Regions from separate parts of the Homo sapiens genome. Here region 1 is linked to region 2. Evidence: fine-mapped expression QTL. A gene starts in region 2. The other region holds a variant in brackets. All regions are shown on one strand. Distances are between the middles of the regions. Region 1 holds the start of C9orf50 (chromosome 9 open reading frame 50). Region 2 holds the start of ASB6 (ankyrin repeat and SOCS box containing 6).

Evidence for each region. PIP is the estimated chance that this variant, and not a neighbour inherited with it, causes the effect.
Region 1: its variant is fine-mapped to the expression of ASB6 in monocytes (Fairfax 2014, PIP 0.95). The same link has a PIP of 0.9 or more in B cells.

What each region holds. Positions count from the first base shown.
Region 1 is chr9:129,614,959-129,623,260 of GRCh38, reverse strand. It overlaps C9orf50 (chromosome 9 open reading frame 50), which reads left to right and starts at 2,160. Exons shown (of 7, transcript NM_199350.4): 1 at 2,160-3,194; 2 at 3,431-3,521; 3 at 3,625-3,741; 4 at 7,614-7,777. The coding sequence starts at 2,687. It also overlaps a transcript of NTMT1 not described here. RefSeq lists an enhancer at 2,048-2,698. The variant G/A (reference allele first, on the strand shown) is at 4,027.
Region 2 is chr9:129,638,131-129,646,453 of GRCh38, reverse strand. ASB6 (ankyrin repeat and SOCS box containing 6) reads left to right here and starts at 4,303. Exons shown (of 6, transcript NM_017873.4): 1 at 4,303-4,567; 2 at 5,732-5,913; 3 at 6,946-7,052; 4 at 7,144-7,252; 5 at 7,795-7,881; 6 at 7,997-8,323. The coding sequence starts at 4,455. RefSeq lists a silencer at 3,937-4,536 and enhancers at 5,243-5,799, 5,800-6,357.

The sequences.
Region 1 (8,302 bases), 23 kb after region 2:
CCTGGGTTCACGCCATTCTCCTGCCTCAGCCTCCCGCGTAGCTGGGATTACAGGTACCCGTCACCACAACCAGCTAATTTTTTGTATTTTTAGTAGAGACAGGGTTTCACCGTGTTAGCCAGGATGGTCTCGATCTCCTGACCTCATGATCCACCCGCCTTGTCCTCTCAAAGTGCTGGGATTACAGGCGTGAGCCACCGTGCCCGGCTCTTTCTTTCTTTTTTTTTTTATGGAGATGGAGTCTCACTCTGTTGCCCAGGCTGGAGTGCAGTGGCGTGATCTCGGCTCACTGCAACCTCCGCCTCCCGGGTTCAAGCAATTCTCCTACCTCAGCCCCCCAAGTAGCTGGGACTACAGGCACACGCTGTCACGCCCGGCTAATTTTTTTGTATTTTAGTAGAGACGGGGTTTCACCATGTGGCCCAGGCTGATTGCGAACTCCTGAGCTCAGGCAATCCACCTGCCTCGGTCTCCCAAAGTGTTAGGATTACAGGTATGAGCCACTGGAACCTGGCCTCTTTTTTTTTTGTGAGACAGAGTCTCAAATGATCTGTGTAACGGATTAGAGTTGGAGATGTCAGCATGAGCTCATGTTTAGCTTAATATAAGTACAGATGGTTACCTATAGAAATATTTATAGATATGTGTGTGTTTCATAGTATACACACACATTTCTTTGTCAGCTGAGACTGCCTGAAAGAAATGACATCTCAATAGCAAGAAGCACACCTAGCACCCAGACCTTGGATTATTATTATTATTATTTTTGAGATGGAGTCTCGCTTTGTCACCCAGGCTGGAGTGCAGTGGCATGATCTCAGCTCACTGCAACCTCCGCCTCCCAGGGTCAAGCGATTCTCCTGTCTCAGCCTCCCAAGTAGCTGGGATTATAGGTGCACAACACCATGCATGGCAAATTTTGGTATTTTTTGTAGAGACGAGGTTTCACCATGTTGGCCAGGCTGGTATTGAACTTCTGACCTCAGGTGATCCGCCCGCCTCGGCCTCCCAAAGTGCTGGGATTACAGGCGTGAGACACCGTGCCCCGCAGGGTCTGTTCATTTCTAGGTCCATTGTATTCTGACTGCCTGGTCTTGGGGTGGAAGTTCTACTTCCAGAGCCACCCAGCCTAAGCCTCCCAGATCTGGAAAGGGTAGGCCTGGCTGCCCTGGTCAGAGTCCCAGTGCCCCAGGTGGCTGCGGCCAGGGCATCCAGGGCACAATAGCCCCACCCTTAGTCCCCAGGCCTCAGTGCCCACTGCTACTCAGATGCCCAGGGGTGAGGGGCGGATCACAATGACCCTGAAGCGGCCCAGAGGCAGCCGGGAGGGGCTGGGAGAGGCACCAGGCAGGGATGATGGGCTCTACAGCCTGCCTGTAGAGAGCTCTAAACTCACAGGACCTTCTAGGGCCCCACCCAGAAGCCCACCAGGGTGAGTGTGACACTGCCCAGGAGTCAGCTCAGAGCTGACAACAATCTGGGAGTGGGGTGTGGTTGGGAGGAAGCAGGCTTAGAAACCCCTCAGTGTCAGAGCTGGGAGTAAGACTGGGGCTCTGCCTCCCAAAGGGGGAGTTTGTTAAAAGTCTGTGTCTTGGCCAGAAGTGGGGACTCACGCCTGTGATCCCAGCACTTTGGGAGGCCAAGGCAAGTGGATCACTTGAGCCCAGGAGTTCAAGACCAGCCCGTGCAACATAAATACAAAAAAATTCTACCCCATTTCTACAAAATATACAAAAATTAGCCAACTGTGGTGGTGTGTGCCTGTAGTCCCAGCTACTCAGGAGGCTGAGGCAGGAGGATCACTTGAGCCCAAGAATTTGAGGCTGCAGTGAGCTATGATGGTGCCATTGCACTCCAGCCTGGGTGACAGCAGGACCCCGTCTTAGCAAGACCCCATCTCTTTAACAACAACAACAAGAACAACAAACTGTCTTGGCTCCAGCAGAGACGTACTGAATCAGAATGGGGGCTGGGGGTAAGTCATCTGTATTTTCAACAGGCTCCCCACCCAGGGGTCTCTGAGGCAGCACCAGGGCTGGGAGGCTGCTGGTCAGGTCTCTCTTCCCTCAAGCTGGTTCCAGGTTTCCTAATTCCCAGTAGAGCGCTAATGACGGTAACAGTTCCACGCTTTGAACACTGCAAGGCAGGCTAAGTGCTCTCTCTACCAGCGGTGATGCGGTGATGCCGTTTCACGGCTGCAGAGAGGCAGGTGCTGCTATTATCCCCATTCTGCAGACCAGAGCCCCCAGGGAAGGCAGAGGGAAGTTAATTGGCTTGGCCAAGGTTACAAAGCTAATAAGTGGTGGAGCTGGGACTAAATCCTAAATAATAATAACTTTGAAATACTAAGAATGGCAGCTAGTCTATGTGTAAGCTTGGCCAGCGTGCCTGGCACTGTACCGAGCTTGCTGTTCTAAGACTGGCATGTACTTGCTCATTTAAACGTCACAGCAACCCCCAAAGTTGGCTACTCTTGCTGTCACCATTTTTCAGGTGAGGAAACAGAGGCTCTGGGAGCTCTCGCCTGAAGCCACTCGCTGTCCGCCGGGCCGGTGGCGTTCACCCCGCACCGCGCTGCCCCGCCCGGGGCACTATGGCCTGGGGCTGGACTATGCCCTCCCCACCTCAGCCGGCGCCCCCCACCCACGCGCGCTGAGGGTGCGGTGAGCTGAGTGCGGGGCCAAGCATGTTCTGGCGTCGACTTCGCCCAGGGGCCCAGGACCTGGCGCCCAAGGGGCTCCCTGGCGACGGAGACTTCCGACGCAGCAGCGACCCGCGGCTGCCCAAGCTGACCCCGCCCGCGCTCCGAGCGGCTCTGGGCGCGCGGGGCTCCGGGGACTGGAGGATCCCGGGGGGCGGCGCCGCGTGGTGGCCGGAAGGGGACGCCAAGCCCGGGGTGGGCGTCGGACGCCTCCCGCCGCGCCTGCCCGCCTTGCTCACCGCGACCCGGCGGGCCGTGCGGAAGCGGGGGCTGCTGCGGTCCCTGCTGCCGCCTCCCCTGCTGTCGGCCGGCGCGTCCCGGGAATCGGCGCCCAGGCAGCCAGGGCCTGGAGAGCGCGAGCGCCCCCGGAGGCGCGTGGCCAGGGAGGACCCCGACTTCTTGGGCGCCTTCCTAGGAGAGCTCCTCCCCAGCAGGTTCCGTGAGTTCCTGCACCAGCTCCAGGAGAAGTGCGCCGAGGAGCCGGAGCCACTGAGTGAGGCCCCGCGGGGCCCGGGGGGCGGGCCCGAGTCATTTCCGGTGGGGGGTGGTCCCTTGTGTCCCCGCACCCACCACCCCACCACCCAGGCTAGAAGGATGCTAATGTTAGCTGAGTATCTCAGAGCCCTCGCAACCCGTCCTTGAGGGCTGGTCTGCCATCACCCCGAGGCCACATGACTAGAAAGGACCGTCCCCCAGCCAAGGCTCACAACTGTTTCCTCCTGGCTCCAGCATCCCCAGCACCGCAACATCAAAGGGGTGTATTAGAGCACTGCCCAGGGTCTCCGCGGTGTCCCAACTGTTCATTCCTCCCAGACCTGTGGTAAGCGTCAGTCCGCTTCTTGGTGGGGACGGGGTTGCCATCGATGTTTCCAGGGCGGGACAGCCTGGCCACTCATGCCAGATGTGGCCTGTTTGTCTTTAAGGGGCCAGTCATCGCACCTCCAGGATAGTCTTACGAAGATTTCGCTCCAGCAGACACCTATTCTGGGGCCCCTGAAGGGTGATCACTCACAATTCACCACTGTCAGAAAGGCCAACCAGTGAGTGATGGGCGGGATAAGGGTAGGGTAGTGGAGGAAAGGGGCATTTCTTTCCTTCTTTCTTTCCTCTTTCGCCCATGAATGTATTCATTTATCCACCTATCTACCCATTCATCCATCCTTACATATGGCTGTCCGTGAATCAGATCTTCTACCAACCCATTCAAGATTCATTCGCCAGTTCATCAATGAATCAACCCATCCATTAATGAGGTCTTCTACCAACACATAATTCATCCATGAATCTATTCATATATTCATTTTCCCATTCACCCATCCATCTTT[G/A]CATCCATCTCATCCATGAACCAAGTCTTCTACAACCCGTTCATGAATCTCTCCATCTATCCATCCATCCTTCTGTCCACCCATTAATCTATCATGGACCCATGACTCCATCCATCCATACATTCACTCACCCACCCACCCATGAATCAGGTGTCCTGTGGATCCATTCATCTACCTGGCCAACCAGCTAGCCAGTCATCCATCTAAAACTCCCACACTTCGGCAGGGCACGGTGGCTCACACCTGTAATCCCAGCACTTTGGGAGGCTGAGGTGGGCGGATCACGAGGTTAGGAGATTGAGACCACCCTGGATAACACGGTGAAACCCCGTCTCTACTAAAAATATACAAAAAAAAAAAAAAAAACACAAAAAATTAGCCGGGCGTGGTGGCGGGCGCCTGTAGTCCCAGCTACTCGGGAGGCTGAGGCGAGAGAATGGTGTGAACCCGGGAGGCGGAGCTTGCAGTGAGCTGAGATTGTGCCATTGCACTCCAGCCTGGGTGACAGAGTGAGACTCCATCTCAAATAAAAATGAAATAAAATAAAATAAAATAAATAAAAAATAAAACTCCCACACTTCTATCCATCCATCCATTGATCCAATGACCAACCATCTACAAATCCTTCCATCCACTTGTAAACCCAGGACACTGTCCATCGCTAATCTAGTCATAAAGCCATCCACAAACCTACATACCCATCTACATAATCATCCAGCCACGCATCTGTCCATCTACCCATACATTCATAGTTCAGTTCTATTCAGACCCTTTCATTAACTCACCCATCAGTCCATCCACCCATCAACCCACCCACCCAGTCTTCCATCATTTTACCCATCCCACCATCATTTGTCCATTTCTTACTCTAACTTTTATTAGGTTTTACTATATGTTGAATATTGGGAGAAAACTAAGGGATGGAGGTAAGAGAAGAGCCTAGGAATTGGAACCTACCTGGGCCTAGACACCATAGTTTTAACAGAGGAGGAAAAGAAGACAGAAACAGTTCCTCCAGGTTAAAATTCCTCCAGGCTTAAGCAGGGGTGAAGGGTGAATGGCACTGCCCATGAGTTTAAAGACCAGGGAGAGTAAATACATCACAAACATATCATTCTTCCTCATCTCATACCCACAGCAGACAAAACTAATGGATCATATTTCCCCACTGAGCCTCAGAACCATTCCTCACACAGTACTCTAGGTAGATACTCCTGATGGATCAGGGTAGGAACTAGAAATGGAACACATGGCCAAGCATGGTGGCTCATGCCTATAATCCCAGTGCTTTGGGAGGCTGAGGCAGGAGGATCGCTTGAGCCCAGGAGTTTGAGACCAGCCTTGGTAACATGGTGAAACCCTGTCTCTACAAAAATTACAAAAATTAGCTGGGCGTGGTGGTGCATGCCTGTGGTTCCAGCTACTCGGGAGGCTGAGGTGGGAGGATTGCTTGAGCCTGGGAGGTTGAGGCTGCAGTGAGCCAAGATCGTGCCACTGCACTCCAGCCTGGGTGACAGAGCAAGACCCTGTCTCAAAAAACAAACAAACAAACAAAAACAGTGAAACACATTTACCAACCTCAGAACGTTCAACCAATCAGGCCAAATATACACATGACTTCTCACAAGATACAAATAAATAAAAGTATGGAATTCATTCTCTCAAATGTGAGCAAAAGCAGAGACAAACACAGTTACAGACTTTCACATTCAAGAGCAAATACTTGAGCACCTTACTGTGTGTGAGATTCCCTGGTAGGCCCTGCAGGGGACACTGTGGTGCCTCAGAACAGGCTCCAGTGGCCCTCGAGTGAAGATGCTGAGATTTCAGGCAGGTGGGCAGAGCTGGGTTATGCCTTTGCCTGGCCCAGCAGCCAGCAGAGAGCAGGGGTTCCTGAGCAGACAACTGTTAGATGACTAGGTCCCAAGGCATGTAGCCAGGCACTGTCCTGACACCTCCCAACTGCTTGGCTCTTTGGAGGCTGATGAAAAGCATTCCCTCTGCATCTACACAGACATACAGATGTGGTCAGATGAATGGATGCAGACATATAACTATGTGCATACTAACGGTCAGCCATGACCTTCCTCCATAACAGAGTTATAGGTGGGTCAAGCAGGCCTTCCCGCAGCCTTGCCCTTGAGGCTGATTTTTTTTTTCTTTTTTTTTGAGACGAAGTCTCACTCCGTCCCTAGGCTGGAGTGCAGTGGCACGATCTCGGCTCACTGCAACCTCTACCTCCTGGGTTCAAGTGATTCTCAACCTCTCGAGTAACTGGAACTACAGGCGCACGCCACCGTGCCCAGCTAATTTTTTTGTATTTTTGGTAGAGACGGGGGTTTCACCATGTTGGCCAGGATGGTCTGGATCTCTTGACCTTTTGATCTGCCTGCCTCCCAAAGTGCTGGGATTACAGGCGTGAGCCACCACACCGGGTTGAGGCTGAAATTAATAACAATAAATGGAACAATGTTATCTATGAAATATACATATAACAGATACCCTTGATTAAGGCCAAACCCTGTGCCAGGCCACGTCCTACATGCCTCATGTAAATCATTTGATACTCACCAAACCCAGGAGGATGGTATTATTGTGCCTATAATTTAAAGGGAAAAAAACCTGCAGAATGGAGACTTGGAGACAGTCTACCAAAGGCCACGTGGCTGGGATGGGGCATGATTGAGATAGACAGTTACAATAAGAACAGCTCAGGCAGGCGGGCGGGCGGTGGCTCATGCCTGTGATCCCAGCACTTAGGAAGGCGAAGGGGGGTGGATCACTTGAGGTCAGGCGTTCGGGACCACCCTGGCCAATAAGGTGAAACCCCGTTTCTACTAAAAATACAAAAATTAGCCGGGCGTGGTGGCACACGCCTGTAGTCCCAGCTACTCGGGAGGCTGAGGCAGGAGAATGGCGTGAACCCGGGAGGCGGAGCTTGCAATGAGCCGAGATGGCACCACTGCACTCCAGCCTGAGCCACAGAGCGAGAATCTGTCTCAAAAACAAAACAAAAACAAAAAACAGCTCCCTGTTAGTGATGTTTCCTCTGGGTCCTGCAGACCCTGGGCTGGATGCTTGTACGGCCCATTTCCTTTCTTCACAACCCTGTAGGGTGGGCACAATGATTCCCATTTTACAGACAAGAAAACTGAGGCTCAAAAGGGTCAGGAATGAAACCCAGGACTGCATGACTCCTGGGCTGGCATTCTTATTCTCTCTGCTAAATTGCTTTACGTGCGAGGGCGCCAGCTCTGGAACCAGGATGCAGGTCTTGGCTCCATGCCTGACAGCTGCATCGCCTTGGAATAGTCTCTGTGCCTCTGTTTCCTCAACTATAAAATGAGAATGATAACAGCGTTTCATGGGGACTGTGTGCATTTGGTGGGTTGGTGTATGTGCGTGCTTGAGCCTGCCTGGCAGGTAGGAAGTGCTCCGTTAAGGCCGGCTGCTGTGATTGGCGTTATCCATTCTTCAAGACCAGTGTAGGGCACTTGTCCAGGATCTCACAGCGAGTCTGGGGCTGGTGCGTGTGTGCTGGGGTACGGTGGGGGGCTTCGAGCACAGGCCCCTCTCCCCTCTCTCAGCAGGCCCCACGGTGCACAGGTCCCCAGGCTCAAGGCTGCGCTGACCCACAACCCCTCGGGGGAAGGCTCTAGGCCCTGCAGGCAGCGTTGCCCTTTCCGGGTGCGATTCGCTGACGAGACCCTGCAGGACACAACGCTCCGCTACTGGGAGCGCAGACGCTCAGGTAAGCAGACAGGATGGGGAGCCTCGAGACTCCCGAAAGTTCTAGCCAGGAGGGCAGAGAGGCTGTAGCTCCGGGCCCCTAGAGTGAGGGACTGGCTTTGCAAAGGCCAAGAGATCAGTGATCCTGCAGAGGATGTGCCTGAACTGGCCTCCTTGGAGGATGTCAGGTTGACCTTCGAAGACCAAGTAGAGGGTCCAGAGTCCAGTGGAGGTGTTCCAACGCAGGCAGCACCTTGGACTGCTCGCTGCCAAGGGGTTCCCATATGCTGTATCTGCCCACCTTGAGACCCGTAGCCGGAGCCTCCAGAGCCCACACTTGCTCCCCTCCGCAGTCCCCACAGCCTACAGGGGCTGGAGGAGGTCCAGATGCCATTGGAAGCATCTTCCTTTGACATCCATGAAGGCAGACCTCGAAGCCTGCCTGAGGAGGTGCCCAGAAAAGCCGCGAAGCGGAAACTTTCTCTCTCCTGGAGACAGTTGGCACTGCCAGGTCCAGCAAGGAAGCTAAGAGCCACCAGACCCTGGA
Region 2 (8,323 bases):
AGAGGGCGGGGGTTAGCTCCCCCTCCTGCATGTCCAGACTCGTGAGCCCAGAGCTGGAGGAGCTGAGGACACTCGAGTCTCGGAGGCAGGAAGCGTGGAAAAGTTGCACCGACCGGGGCTGGAGGCCCAACCTCACAGTGCAGCCTGGGACAAGCGCCCAAACCTCTCTGAGCCCGTTTCTTTGTAAAATGGGGTAATAATATCACCTACTTAACAGGATTTAGGGAGATCAGTGCACCAAACATTCAGCATATCTAGTGCCTGGCATGTACAAGGGTCTCCGTAAATACAAGTGGGCTCGTGTTGTTGTTATTATAATGGCCCCCTCCTCACTCCTTCTCTGTCGGCGGAGCCCACCAGCCACGTCAAGGAGTTCGTCATTGGCTCCAAGACTGTCAGAGCTGGGAGGGCCCTCAGGTTATAGGTGAGGAAACTGAGGCCCAGAGACCAGAAGGGCCATGCCTAGGGTCACTCGTGACAGTGGGTTTATGTGTGCTCCCCAAAAAGATATGTTCCAGTCCTAGTCCTGGTGCCTGGAACGTGACCTCGTTCAGAAAAAGGGGTTTTGCAGATGTAATCAAATTAAGATGTGGCCATAATGGATTTGGGTGCGCCCTATAAATCCAGTGACCCATGCCCATTTAGAAAGGAGGGGGAAGGCTGGGCACGGTGGCTCACGCCTATAATCCCAGCACTTTGGGAGACAGAGGCGGGCGGATGACAAGGTCAAGAGATCGAGACCATCCTGGCCAACATGGTGAAACCCTGTCTCTACTAAAAATACAAAAAAAAATTAGCTGAGGGTGGTGGCACACGCGCACCACTGCACTCCAGCCTGGCGACAGTGCGAGACTCTGTCTCAAAACACAAAACAAAAAAGAAAAAGAAAAAGAAGGGAGCGGGGGATTTGGACAGTGGCATAGACAGCAGGAAGAAGGCTGTGTGGAGACAGAGGAAGGTGGACACTGGGGTGCTGCTGTCCCAAGCCGAGGTACCCCTGTGGTCACCAGGAGTGGGAGAGGCAAGAAAGGGACCTTCTCTGGAGTCTTTGGAGGGAGCGTGGCCCTGCCCACACCTTGAATTTGACCTTTCCGCCTCCAGAACTGTAAAGGAGTGAATTTCTGTTGTTTTAAGCCATCAGGTCTGCAGCACCTTGTTATAGCAGCCCTAGGGCAAAAGCAGGGCTCAGACGAAGTCAGCCCACCCAGCTCCACCGGGACCCCACGGGACTGCACCTCCCGCAGTTACTCACCATGCGCCCTTGGGTAAGTCAGGCCTCCGTCTCCTGAGGGTTGAGGGCCAAAGGCCATCACATAGGTGAGGAGACCGAGGCCTGACTCAACACGGGCATGGTGTCACGTGATCAAATGTGTTGTGTGATCAAACGAGAGAGGGGCTGTGAAGACCTGGGTCGCCTGAGAGCGGCTGTACCGTTCAGGGCCTCGCGATCCATTGAGGGGGACCCTTCAAGCAGGGGCAGACACTTCCAAACGCTCAGAGTCATGCCCAGGCAGGTGCACCCAGGGCAAGCACCCCATCTGGATGCAAATCGCTGTCTGGTAAGAATCTGGGCCCTTCTGATTTTTACAAGGCAAGTTGGAAAATCTCCATTTCCCTGGGAGCAAAATGTCCCGATTTCCCTCAGGAAGATACTTCTTTCCCTCAGCAAGAATCAAGGCAGACATGTGTGGGGAGCCGTGGGCCCTCGTAGTCTGCAGTTGCTTCTGGGACGCCCAAGCTAGTGTTGCCTTAAAGGGTCTTGAACCCAGCTGCCCACCCCCACCCCTCCTTCCTACTCCTTTAGGTAATGGAAGAGGAAGCAAACTGAGGCACTCTGAATGCCTGGCGTCGGAGGTGGTTTTCCGAGAGCCTGTCATTGGATCTGACAACAGCTTTAACAACCAGAGCCAGCAGTTACCAGCCGCTGCTGCCACACCCTCAACCTTGCCGGTTGAGGCTCGTTGCTTTGGGTTTTCTTGTACAGTTTGTTTTGCACATGGTAGAGGGCCTTACTCTGCCCATTTAAAAATGTTTCATCTGGCTGGGCGTGGTGGGCTCACGTCTGTAAGCCCAGTACTTTGGGAGGCTGAGGCGGGTGGATCACCTGAGGTCAGGAGTTCGAGAATAGCCTGGCCAACATGGTGAAACCCCGTCTCTACTAAAAATACAAAAATTAGCCTGGCGTGGTAGCGCATGCCTGTAATTCCAGCTACCTGGTAGGCTTGAACCCAGGGGTTGGAGGTTGCAGTGAGCCGAGATCCTGCCACTGCACTCCAGCTTAGGCAACAGAGTGAGACTCCGTCTGAAAAATAATAATAATAATAATAATAAATAAATAAATATAAAAATGTTTACTCTAAGACCCATCGGATTGTCTTGAAATGCGCCTTTAAATGTTTTTTTCCTGGGCTGGGCAACTCTCGCTGTCTGGCAGGTTCCAGGGAGAGGGGCCCAACTTGGCAGAGCAAGGCCCAGGAGGCCAACGCTGTGATGTGGACTGCTGGGGCGGGAAACCCCTCTTCATCATCAGCTTCCCAGAAGCAAGAAGGCATCAAGGCCCCCCCACGCAGACTCCAGGTGGGAGAGGAGGCTCAAATGCATGGCCCAAGGGGAGGTGCCTCGACTCCAGAAAAGTGGTTTTTCCAAGGCAAGCTGGAAATGTCCATTTCCATGTGAGCAGAATTTCCCGATTTCACCCAGGGAGAAATTTCTTTCCTACAGCGAGAACCAAGGCAGAAACGTGCTGGCAGCTGTGGACTCTGCGGCCTGGAGCTGCTTCTAGGAAGCCCAAGCTGGTGTTGCCCTAAAGGGGCTTAAACCCGGCTGCCCACTCCGCCCCTTCTTCCTGAACCAGAGGGTTTTGGCTCCTTCCCACTGAATTCCACTTCCACCAACAATTACAGTGCGCTGGCTCCAGCATCTCAGGTGAGTGTGATTATACTTTTTTTTTTTCTTTTTGAGACAGAGTTTCGTTCTTATTGCCCAGGCTGGAGTGTGATGGTGCGATCTCCACTCACTGCAACCTCCGCCTCCCGGGTTCAAGCAATTCTCCTGCCTCAGCCTCCCAAGTAGCTGGGATTACAGGCGCCTGCCACCACGCCCGGGTAATTTTTGTATTTTTAGTAGAGACAGGGTTTCATCATATTGGCCAGGCCGGTCTGCAGCTTCGAACTTCTGACCTCAGGTGATCCACCTGCCTCGGCCTCTCAAAGTGCTGGGGATTCTACCCATTTTACAGATGAGGAAATCCAAGTTCAGAGACAGGCGGTAGCACACTCCTGTGTTCCCAGCTTCTCGGGAGGCTGAGGCGGGAGGATCACCTGAGCCCAGGGGTTCAAAGCTGCAGTGAGTCATGATCACTACACTACACTCCAGCCTGGGAGACAGAGTGAGACCCTGTCTCTAAAAAATACACAAGATTCGGGCTGGGCACCGTGGCTCATGCCTGTAATCCCAGCACTTTGGGAGGCCGAGGTGGGAGGATCACGAGGTCAGGAGTTCGAGACCAGCCTGGCCAATATGGTGAAACCCTGTCTCTACTAAAAATACAAGAATAAGCTGGGCGTGGTGGCCAGCGCCTGTAATCCCAGCTACTCGGGAGGCTGAGGCAGGAGAATCGCTTGAACCCGGGAGGCGGAGGTTGCAGTGAGCCGAGATCGTGCCATTGCACTCCAGCCTGGGCAACAGAGCGAGACTACGTCCCCCAAAAAAACAAAAACAACAACAACAAAAAACAAGATTCACTGAGTCCATCAAGGCAGAGGTGGAGAGGGCTAGCAGCCGTCCTGGCCAGGTGCTCCCCGGGACAGAGAATAAGAAACTGAGGAGGGGACGTGCGAGTACCCTGGTCCTCATCATTCCAGTCAGCGGGCCGGGTGGTGACAGAGGTGGCCCAGCCCCTCTTCAGGGAAGGCGAGGGCCAGCCCGAACCGGAAGGGGCAGTGTCTGATGACCACAGCTCTCAGGGGCGCCCAGGGCCAGTGGGGCAGCGGCAGGGCCGAGAGCACGACCGGCGGAACTCGGACGGCGCCCAGCGGTCGCGGGCGGGATCGCAGGGCGAAGCCGAGCCGGGCCGGGCCCTGGCAGGAAGGGGCGGACCCGCCTGAGTCTCGGATCTGGCTTGGCTCGATCCTCCACTCTCCCACTCCGCTGGGGCCGCCCACTGGACATCGCCCGAGTCGGCCTGGCGGTCGTGCCCCAGGACGCGCCGAGGTCCTCCGAGCCCGCAGGGGGCGCTGTCGCCATATGGCCCACCCTGAGTCGGCGCGGGCAGGAAGTACGAGGGTCACTTCCGGCGGGGGCGCGGCTTGGACTGAGGAGCGGACCCGGCCGGGCGCAGGGGCTGGACTGGCGGAGCAGGTGGGGTCCGCGGCCGCCGGAGCGTTCCGGTCGGCGTCTGGGCATCTCGGCCTCGGCAGAAAGCGCGACGGCCCTGCTGCGCGGGGCCCGCGGCGATGCCGTTCCTGCACGGCTTCCGGAGGATCATCTTCGAGTACCAGCCGCTGGTGGATGCGATTCTGGGCTCCCTGGGGATCCAGGACCCCGAGCGGCAGGAGTCTCTGGACCGGTAACTCACCCCCTCCCGTGAGCTGGCCGAGGCCGCTCCGACCCCGCAGCGTCCCACTTTATCACCACAAGCCGGGCGGGGTGGATGCGTCCCCCTTGACAGAGGAAGGGACGGGCGGAAGCCGGGGTTGCGTGGCTCGGAGTGCGCGCTGCCCCGCGCGGATCCCACTCCTGCCCCTTGCATGGCGGAGACGAAGGGCGGGGAGGGCCCGAGGGCGGAGGCCCGCGGGTTGTCGCAGGGCCTGCGCCTCAGCCCCACCCTGTCGCCTGCCTGTCCTGTGCCACCCCCCGGCGTGGCAGAGGAGCAGGGTGGAATCCGTGAGGCCTCAGATGTTACCCCAGAGCAGTGTGAAGGTGGGCTTTTGTAGCAGAGTTTGCGTTTTTATAGACAAGAGCTGGTCTGTCGTGGACCTGCAGGAAAGGGGTCGGGAGCGAATCTGCATTCACTGCCCATGGTACTAGGCACCTGGGGTCCATCAGTGGCTCAGCAAAACCCCCGCCTTCTTGGCGCATGTGCTCCAGAGGAGAGACTGACAAGTAATTGTACGGCGGCACGCGAGGTGGAAGGGAGGGGAGAGCAGAAGGAAGGGGCTCGGCTCAGGTGTTGAGGGGGTTGTCAGTTGGTATTTCCAACACGTGGTAATGATGAGTCTCGCCATCCAGGGACTCTGGTGGAAACGTAGGCTTTCTTCATCAATATCAGCTGAAGGTCTCAATGTGAGGGGAGGGAGGAGGCTGTGTTGCTGTCCTGGCTGCAGGTGTTGCCGGGGCTGGGGTCCTGCGGGTTTGAGGATGGAAGGGCTTTCTGAGGAAGAAGCATCAAAGTCGGGCTTGGGCTCTTGGCCTCCAGGCTGGTGGTCCCTTCAGTCCCAGCAGCCCAGGTGTGTGAGGCTTTGTACCTAAGTCTGCGACCGGACTCTGGGCAACGCGGGAGGAGAGCGCAGACAGACCCAGCCCATTCTCCGCAAATCCCAGTCTGCTCCCGTATTAAGAGATGCAGCGTGGCCCTCTCTCTACTTCAGAGCTTCCCCCAAGCCCCTGTGACCCACAGAGCCAGGGCCCTGCTTGCTGATGATGATAGCAGGACTAAAGCCCACCAACCCACAGGCTGCGCGGTCACCCGGTCCCACAGCTGTGCCTACCCTCAGCCTCTCTCCTGTCCCAGGCCCAGTTATGTCGCCAGCGAGGAGAGCCGAATCCTTGTTCTCACTGAGCTGCTGGAGAGGAAAGCCCACTCTCCCTTTTACCAGGAAGGCGTGAGCAACGCCCTGCTCAAGATGGCTGAGCTGGGGCTGACGCGGGCGGCCGACGTTCTCTTGCGGCATGGGGCCAATCTCAACTTTGAAGGTCAGCGAGAGCCCCGGGGGTGGGCAGGTGGCTTAAACGCGGCCCGACGCTGGGTGGGCGCCCATGTCCCCAGCCTTGGCTTCTACCATCCTCTGAGGAGTGACTTCCCCCCCTTTATTTCCTGGGTGGCTGCAACTAAGGAAACTCCCATTGGGTGGCCTCCCACCCCCTGCGGGTTTTCACATGGCTCTTCCCACCTCTGTTCCAAGAGCGAGTGTTGCTGCTTCTACCATGTGATTGATTAGCAAACTTTCCCCAGCTCCCAGATTAATCCCCACTTCCATTAATGCAAAAATGCGGCTGCTGGCACTGTGCCCAGAGCTAAGGGAAGGTAATTTTCTGCTACTTACTCTGAGCCAATTTGTTTTTTTTTTTCTCATGCCGTAGGGAGAGGGGAAAACAGGCTGCATTAGGCATAAATCACCACAGGACACCCTGGCTCCTGGCTCCTGAGTGCCAGGGATGGAGATGGAGCCGAGCTCCTTTCTCTGTGTTTTTCAGCCCAGGGAGGGCAGGGTTAGTCGGCAGACAGGCAGGGCTGCCTTGTGACCTAATAGGGGCCTGAGACAGCCAGGCACGTCTCCTTTCCCCATCCGAAGACGGGCTTGGAGTCTGCTGGGCTCCTGGAGGGTCAAGGAGCTGAGACGGGAGGGCCGGTTCTGAAGCCAGTGACTTGGAGACCAGCTTGGAGAACCTGGCTGTTACCACCAGGCCTACAAAGCAGAGCCGCCAGAGCTGCTGTGTAGCGCGGCCTCCCAGCCATTCTGAGAGGGTGCGCCCCGTTTTATGGTCCCTTCTTACAGAAGAGGAAACTAAAGCCCCCAACAGCTTCAGTAGCGTGCCCACTAGAACACCCCGAGGGCCCTCTAGTATCTGGTGAGGACAGCTCTGTCCTAACCCTTGATGGTGACAGGAGGCTGGGCCTGTGCTTCTGGACACTTTAGGTGGGAGTTTGGGGCTGGGCTCTGGGTCCGGGGGCCCCATAAGAATGCGGACAGATAGGACCCACATGAGCTGTGTCTGCACCTTCAGACCCAGTCACCTACTACACGGCCTTGCACATCGCCGTCCTGCGGAACCAGCCGGACATGGTGGAGCTGCTGGTGCATCACGGGGCCGACGTTAATCGGAGGGACCGGGTAAGTGCCAGGTCCAGCTTGCTTTGAAGCAGGGTTGGGCAGGGGCCTGAGCAGCTTCCCAAGCCAACCTGGCTGTGCTTCCTTGGCTCAGATCCACGAGAGTAGCCCCTTGGACCTGGCCAGCGAGGAGCCTGAGCGCCTGCCCTGCCTGCAGCGCCTCCTGGACCTTGGAGCTGATGTCAATGCCGCTGACAAGCATGGTGGGTGCCTCCTGCAGGAAAGCAGGACAGCTGGGCCCCCAGGCACCTTGTGGGGGACACCCAGGGTGCCCCAGGACAACAGCTAGGTGGGCAGACTGGATGCTGGCCCTGGCTGGTGGCACAGCATGGCTGGGCACACAGGGATTCTGCTGACTTGCTGAGCTCAGAGGCTTCAGAGAGGCAGTGCAGTCATTGTCCCTGTGCTGGCCCTCAAGGGCCTTCTATAGGAAGAAATAGGGCATGTGTGCACTTAGTTTCCAAGAAACAATGGCTTCCCATTGGGAGAGGCCCAGCCAACATCTCAGGTAGCATCTTGGGGTCCAGAAAAATCCTACCTTTCCTGGCCTTTCCGCTCCCACTTCTCTGGGTGGAAAGGGAATGGCCAGAAGCCTGTCACCCTCAGCCCTCACCTGAGCTGAGAGTTGTCTCTGAAAGTTCATCTTCTGATCCTCTGAGTGTCTGGATTTCTGCCACCTCCTCTGGGTTGCCCTGACCTGGGCTTCCTGGCCTCCTGCTCCTCCTTGCTCTCCCTCCCTCCCTAGGAAAAACTGCTCTGCTCCATGCTCTGGCCAGCAGCGACGGGGTGCAGATCCACAATACTGAGAACATTCGTCTCTTACTGGAAGGAGGTGAGGCTGGCGCGCTCCTAGGCCTCGTCCTCTCACCCGCCCCTTCGATGTGTGCTGTTGCTTTGCCAGGGTTGAAGGCCTTCTCCCAGCATCTCTTGTTCTATGGCTCTTCTAGGGGCAGACGTCAAGGCCACCACCAAAGATGGGGACACAGTGTTCACCTGCATCATCTTCCTGCTTGGTGAGACCGTGGGAGGGGACAAAGAGGAGGCCCAGATGATCAACCGCTTCTGCTTCCAAGTCACACGGCTGCTGCTGGCACACGGGGCCGACCCCAGCGAGTGCCCAGCCCACGAGTCCCTCACCCACATCTGCCTGAAGAGCTTTAAACTGCACTTCCCTCTCCTGCGCTTCCTCCTGGAGTCCGGAGCCGCCTACAACTGCTCCCTGCACGGTGCGTCCTGCTGGTCTGGCTTTCACATCATCTTTGAGAGGCTCTGTT